2 linked regions of the Homo sapiens genome follow. The protein of the gene in region 1 purifies or fractionates together with the protein of each later gene. This does not show direct contact. Each region holds a gene or a part of one and is shown on either strand. Other genes may lie near its edges. The genes, in order: ZNF146 and TIPRL.

Region 1 (3,824 bases):
TAATTTTTTGTATTTTTAGTAGAGACGAGGTTTCACCATGTTAGCCAGGATGATCTTGATCTCCTGACCTCGTGATCCACCCGCATCAGCCTCCCAAAGTACTGGGATTACAGGCTTGAGCCACCGTGCCTGGCCAAGGCACTACTTTTTAAAAAATGAATTTGATTACTATTGAAGTAAGTAATGCATTTCTGTGATTCAACAAAGATCTATCTCACAGAGATATCTCATTCTGCTCCCTTCCCCCAGTCACATTCTTCTTTGTCTTATGTAAACATGTCTTGTTTTTTTTTGTTTGCTTCTTGTTTATCCTTCAAGTGGGTTTTTTGTTTTTTGTTCTGTCACTATTATATATTTCTCTTCACTCCTGTTTCCCTCCACCTTACATAAAAGATAGCATACCACATGCACCTCCCTATATCTCACTTTCTTTAATAACAGTATGTCCTAGAGATAGCCCTTCCTTTTTTCTTTCTTTTTTTTTTTTTTTTTTTTTTGAAATAGTCTCGCTCTGTCACCCAAGCTGGTGTGCAATGGTGTTAACATGGCATACTGCAGCCTCCAACTGCTGGGCTGAAGTGATCTTCCTGCCTCAGCCGCCTGTGTAGCTGGGACCACAGGCACACTCCACCACACCTGGCTTTTTTACTTTTTGTAGAGATGAGGTCTCACTGTTTCCCAGATTGGTCTCGAACTCCTGAGCTCAAGCAGTCCTCCTCTCTTGGCTTCCCAAAGTGTTGGGATTACAAGTGTGAGCCACTGCACCCAGCCAAGGTGTTCCTTCTTAATCATAATCTTTAAAAGAAATTTTTTTTTCAGCTGCTGTATAAATAAGATGTCATTATTTGGATGCACCATGGTTGATTCAGTTAATCCCGTTGTTGAGCATTTGGATTGTTTCCAGTCTTCTGCTGTTGCTAACAATGCAGTAATGAATAATTTTTTTATGTGCGCCATTTTATACTGACACAGGAGTAGCTCTAAACTAGACTGCTATTAATACAAATGGCGCTGCCCAGTGGGTAAGTACTTACACTCCCACAAGCCATGTGCGAGAGCGTCTTCCCCTTAAACTCACCATGAGTGTAGTGTCGAATATTTGGTATTTCGCTAGGGACATAAGAGACAATCTGAACTTCAGTGTAGGTTTCATTTACATCCCTTCTTATGAATGAGAATTTTTTTTTATATGTTTAAAGGCCTGTATGTATTAATCTAGGAACTGTCTATTCATATCCTTTTCACCATTTTTCTATGGGGTGTCTTCTCCTTAGAGGAGCTGTTTATAAATTAGAAAGGTTAGCCCTGTATGAAATGAGTGGTGGCTTTTTTTTTTTTTTTTTTTGAAGTTTTCATTTGCATTTGGACATTGTTCACAGTGGTTTCTTTTTTTTTTAATCTTGCAGAAATAAGAGGTTTTGTTTTAATTTAGTAATAATAGTTTCTTTTTTTACATAGCCGTGCTTAGAATGAGCCCCCTGTGGTTGGTGAGCACAGAGACATCCCCGCACCACACCAAAGACCTTTTTATTCATGTATTTTTTAGAGGCACAGTCTCACTGTGTTGCACAGGCTGGCCTTGAACCCCTGGGCCCAAGCAAGTCTCAGACTCCCAAGTAGCGGGGACTACAGGCAGTGCACCACCATGCTGCTATGGTTTTCTTTTTATTTTCAAAACTTTTGGCTGGGCGCGATGGCTCACGCCTGTAATCCCAGCACTTTGGGAGGCTGAGGCGGGTAGATCACTTGAGGTCAGGAGTTTGAGACTAGCCCGGTCAACATGGTGAAACCCCGTCTCTACTAAAAATACAAAAAATTTAGCCAGTCATTGTGGTGCACGAGATCACACCACTGCACTTTAGCCTGGGCAACAGAGTGAGACTCCGTCTCAAAAAAAAAAAAAAATCTAGTTACATTTTTTTCTTTTTGAGATGGAGTATCTCTCCGTCCCCCAGGCTGGAATGCAGTGGTGCGATTTCGGCTCACTGCAAGCTCCGCCTCCCGGGTTCACGCCATTCTCCTGCCTCAGCCTCCCAAGTAGCTGGGACTACAGGCGCATGCCACCACGCCTGGTTAATTTTTTCGTATTTTTAGTAGAGACGGGGTTTCACCATGTTAGCCAGGATGGTCTCGATCTCCTGACCTCGTGATCCGCCCGCCTCGGCCCTCCAAAGTGCTGGGATTACAGGCGTGAGCCACCGCGCGTGGCTGATTCATCAGTCTTTTATGGTTATCAGACTTTTCCACTCTTAAGTTTCACCGATATTTTCAAATTCTTATAAAGTTACAGTTTTTTGTTGTTTGATTGTTTTAGAGTTGGATCTTGATCTGTCACCCAGGCTGGGGTGCAGTGGCGTGATCACAGCTGACTGCAGCCTTCATATCCTCGCTAATTTAAAAAAAAAAAAATTGTAGAGATAAGATCTCCCTGTGTTGCCCAGGCTGGTCTCAAACTCCTGGGCCCAAGTGATCCTGCTACCTTGGCTTCCCAAGTCAGAGCAATAGTTTTTTTAAGATTTTGTTTTTATTTTAATTTATAATCCATTTAGATTTTATCCTGGTGTATGCTATCAGATATGCATCCAGCTTTACCTTTTTCCAATTGGCTACCACGTTCTTTGACATCATTTATTAAAAGGTCTTACCTGGCTGGGCACGGTGGCTCACGCCTGCAATCCCAGCACTTTGCAAGGCCAAGGTGGGTGGATCACTTGAGGTCAGGAGTTCGAGACCAGCCTGGCCAATATGGAGAAACCCTGTCTCTACTAAAAATACAAAACATTAGCTGGGTGTGGTGGCACATGCCTGAATCCCAGCTATTCGGAGGCTGAGACAGGAGAATCGCTTGAACATAGGAGGGCGGAGGTTGCAGTGAGCTGAGATTGTGCCACTGCACTGCAGCCTGGGCAACAAGAGCCAAACTCCATCTCACACACATTAAAAAAAGGTCTTATGTTTACTATTTTTAGGATGCCACTTTGATTATATACTAAATTCTCACATTTATTTGGTCTGTTTCTGGGTGTGAGCAGAAAGACTGAGGACACTGCTATAGCCCAGGTGTAACAACCAGGGAAAATATTTATCTTTTTACTATTGAGGCTTTATCATTGTGTTTTACTTTGTGGTATAGCTAGTCTCTTAATTGCTCGTCCTTTTCAGTGTTTCCTGGCTATTCTTGCCTGTTTATTTTTCTTTGTAAATTTTAGGATTAGCTTGTCTCGTTCCAGAGGGGGAAAAGGTAGAACTAGTTTGTTACTTTTATTGGGATTGCATTAAATTTATAAAATAACTTGGGAATAGGGACATTTTTATGACATTAAATATTCCTCTTTATGTACGTGATACGTATTCTCGTTTCTTTTTGGGTCCTCTAGGGTGTTTTAAAATTTTTTTCATACAGGTTTGGACACTTCTTACTAAGTTTATTTCTGGATGTTTTGTTTTATGTTGCTATGAATGGAGTCATTGTTGGCATATATGAAGCTGTTGATTTCTACATACTAATATTATTCCCTGCTTTCCTTAGTTATTTGTAATTAGATTATATAATTGAGGCAGTAGGCATCCTTGTCTGTTTAGAATCTAATAGAAATGCCTTCAGTGTTTTTCTATTACTTTTATTATCATGATTTGCTTTTCAGTGTTTTTACATTAGATAAGATACTGGCTTTTGTGGTCAGATACAGATTATGATTATATAAATATAGATTACCCATGCTGCCTGGGTCAGTGGGAGTGTGAGCAGAAAGACTGAGGACACTGCTAATAGCCAAGGTGCAACAACCAGGGAAAATCTGTTGATTGAGGAAACAACAATCCCT
Region 2 (3,824 bases), on another chromosome or scaffold:
CTCCAGCCCTCCAGCCTGGGCGACAGAGCAAGACTCCGTCTCAAAAAAAAAAAATAAAATAAAATAAAAGAAGTAGAAAACACACATAACAAGTATGGTTATTCATATTTCTTTACCACTGCATTATAATTGGGTCTCTAATACTTTCCAGAAATAACTCAACTGAAACTTTTTACTAAATGCCTCATTCTTTAAGACCCAAAGACCCAGCTAAAATACCACCTTTTCTACAAGGCCCTTCACAACTCCGTTACACAGAGTTAAATATCTCTTTTCTATACTCCTTTTTAAAAACCTCTCAATTAGGCCGGGCGCGGTGGCCCATGCCTGTAATCCCAGCACTTTGGGAGGCCGAGGCGGGCGGATCACGAGGTCAGGAGATCGAGACCATGGTGAAACCCCGTCTCTACTAAAAATACAAAAAATTAGCTGGGCGCAGTGGCGGGCGCCTGTAGTCCCAGCTACCCGGGAGGCTGAGGCAGGAGAATGGCGTGAACCCGGAAGGCAGAGCTTGCAGTGAGCCGAGATCGTGCCACTGCACTCCAGCCTGGGCAACAAGCGAGACTCCGTCTCAAAACAAACAAACAAACAAACAAAACAAACAAAAAACCTCTCAATTATAGCATTTGTCATGAGATCTGTCAAAGACAGAGACCCTAACATCAAACATTGTTCTTGGGGCATAATGATTGTGGATGCTGTGATTTAAAGAATGAAAATAATACAAAAGCAGCAACAGATTTGTTTTAAAGTCAAATTTTAGCTACTTGGGAGGCAGAAGCAGGAGGATTGCTTGAGCCCAGGAGGTCAAGGCTACAGTGAGCTATGATGGTGCCACTGCACCCCAGCTTGGGAGACAAAATAATTTTATTTTTAGATAAATAAAAAATTTTATTTTTCTTATCTAAAAATAAAATTAGTTTTTTCGGTGGAATCAAAGGATTTTGAAATTGTAGTGAATTTTTAGAGAATCATTTTTTGTAGCCTCCATATTTTATAGATAAGGCCTAAAAAGATAGCTTAAGGTCATGAAACTAATTGCAAAGTTTTCTTTGTATCATCTAATATATATCATTATTCTAGCATTAGATAGTTGTTTTCATAGGCTTTACTTCTTTGCTCACTTATAACTCTAAATTCACTTTTTTTTGTTTAGATTTATTCTCTCTTCAGTTCACCTAGTCTTGTATCTTTCCACTTGTCTACCACCTGTTGAATTGACTATGCTAAATGTTCATTATGAGTTTGCATACCTGGGTGTGCATTTGTATCCAAGGGGGTATATATATCATGTCTATAAGTGGGTCGGTATTTGGAAAGCACATGTGGTTTTGTGGATGGAGTTGCTTGAAAGGATATGTGTATAAATATGTGTGTACAAGAATACATAGTAAGTCTTAAACTGAAGAGCATTTTTTTAACCAACTACTTTAAGCTGAAGTATTAGTTCATAGATATTACTATCCTGTAGTGAAATTTGTAGATGATTTAATCCACCTACTTTGCAGCAATCAACATATTTTAACTATAAAATTAAAGGAAATTGGTTTAGAATAAAATATATTTTAATACTTAAATGCATAATATGACTGCACCAAAGACATAATGAAGCAGTCAGGTACTTATATTTGCATATTGAGTCACCGTAAATGTGACAGCAAAAAATGTAGGCTGACAGAGATGTAAGGTATCAATCAGTGACTCTTAACACAATTTTCCAAAATGATGAACAACTCTTAGTGAAGTTCTAAATAAGAAAAAGTATAATCTTTCCTTGATTTGGAAAATAGTTGACTTCCTGGATAATTGAGTGATTTTTTTTTTATTATCTATGTAAAATGGAAATAGTTTCTAAAGTCAGATCATTATAAGTAGGCTTTTTCACCTCTGTGAATGCCTGGTAAGATACTGCAAGTTTTGTGGAATGCAGGACTGGACTTTGTTGTATAGGATTGTCCTGTGCATCCCAGATCTGTCGTTCTGGTCCTTATTCACTAACTGTTGATATTGGTTGCTTATTGATGTGACAAGAAAAAGTACTCTCACAAATTCCCAAACGTCCCCTAGGAAAGAACTACTGCCCTAAAATATGCTATTGTATTGGCACTAGAGTTCTGGTCTCCTAATTCCTACTCTCTCCACTGTGCCATGCTAAAATGATATTTCAGTTTACTGCCTGTGTTGTGTCCAGTGTGACTGTTGGTAACTAATTTTGAAATTTGAAGAAATGTTGCAAGTCAGTTTTTCCATAAATTACACATATCACTGTGTAGTAATGTCAAATAATAATGATGTGCTTCTCAATTTGTTGTGACATCAAGTTGTCATAAGTCAGGTTATTTCTACAGCTTTCCTTTACTAAAAGTCTTTTTTTTAAGTCTGTTGCTGATAACCCCATCAGAATACACTTTGGCTCAGAGCCTTTTCTCCAGCAAAGGTATTAATACCTTCTAGCTTCAGTTTTATCCGGAAAATGGTTAATGAGCACCTGCTGTGTGCTAGGTACTTTTCTAAGCAATAGAGATGTGGTGATGAACAAAGCAGATATTTCCACCACCATGGAGCCTACAGTCAAGTGGAAACATAAATGAAGATAGTTACAAATCCGTTAATTCGTAATGGAGTGCTATGAGAGAGAATACCAAGATAAATCTATTGTGGTATGGAATGGTAAGAAAGGCCCCTCTGTGGAAGTGACATGTGTACTGAAATCTGAAGGACAAGTGAACATTAGCCGGGAGAATACTCCAGGTAAGGGAAGAGGGTGTGTAATGGTCCCAAGGCAGAAAAGAATTTGGCCTGTGGCTGGTGACTCTCCAGGCAGTTAAGTCACTGTCATTACTGGGTTATCCTGTTATTTCTTCTTTCATCATTAATGTAGCCCTGTGCTTATATGTAAGATTATAGGCAGTTCCCTGAATATATGTTATTATTTCATGTCTCAGTACTTTTTGTACATGCAGGTCCCCTTTCTGAAATTCTCCTTCCCATCTCTAGCTGTTCTTTCTGTGGTCAGCTCAAGCCTTGTCTTATCTGATGTTCTTCAGCAGACTTAGGTACTTCTTTCTCAAATGCTTATTGAGCCTTGTGCATACCCATTATAGCAGCTACCACATCTGTTTGACCTTTCCCTGGCTGATAACCTTTTTGAGCATTGGGATTCTATTTTTTCATTTATATAAATCCAAGACTTACTATAGTAAGAACTTGGTGTTAGTAGACAATAGGTATTTATTCAGCAAATGGCCAAGCATATTCATTTTAATTAATTAATTAATTTTGGGACAGGGTCTTGCTCTGTTGCCCAGGCTGGAGTGCAGTGTTACAATCATGGCTCACTGCAGCCTATCTCCCAGGCCCAAGCCATCCTCCCAGCTTAGCCTTCCACGTAGCTAGGACTACAGGCTTGTGCCACCGTGCTTTGCTAATTTTTTGTATTTTTTGTAGAGATGGGGTCTGACTCTGTTGCCCAGGCTGGTCTTGAACTCCTGGGCTCAAGTGATCTTTCCACCTCAACCTTCCAAACTGCTGTGATTATAGGTGTGAGCCACCATGCCAGCTAAACATATTCATTTTAAAGACCCAAATACCTCACATTCCATTCAACCGCTCTCTCCCCGCCACCAGGACCCACCTTCATACTTTCTCCACTGATTCTGCCTATCATTAGTAGTTATACTTGGAAAGCAGAGGAATTTGTAGATGTGCCACAGATGAAAGATGTTAAGAATGTGTTATAGTGTTCTGATAAACCAGGTCTTTAGCAATATGTAATAGTGCCTACAGGTTGCACTGAATTAGAGCATTCTGTGTAAGGTCTGTTG

What was found.
Region 2: the proteins of ZNF146 (region 1) and TIPRL purify together in Homo sapiens (affinity purification with mass spectrometry, with the first as the bait; one large-scale study listed by BioGRID). This does not show direct contact.

The regions. Positions count from the first base shown.
Region 1 is NC_000019.10:36,221,453-36,225,276, forward strand, and holds part of ZNF146 (zinc finger protein OZF), read left to right. Parts: intron 1-3,824.
Region 2 is NC_000001.11:168,192,312-168,196,135, forward strand, and holds part of TIPRL (TIP41-like protein), read left to right. Parts: exon of another isoform or gene 1-84; intron 85-3,824. UniProt on the Homo sapiens protein: May be a allosteric regulator of serine/threonine-protein phosphatase 2A (PP2A). Isoform 1 inhibits catalytic activity of the PP2A(D) core complex in vitro. The PP2A(C):TIPRL complex does not show phosphatase activity.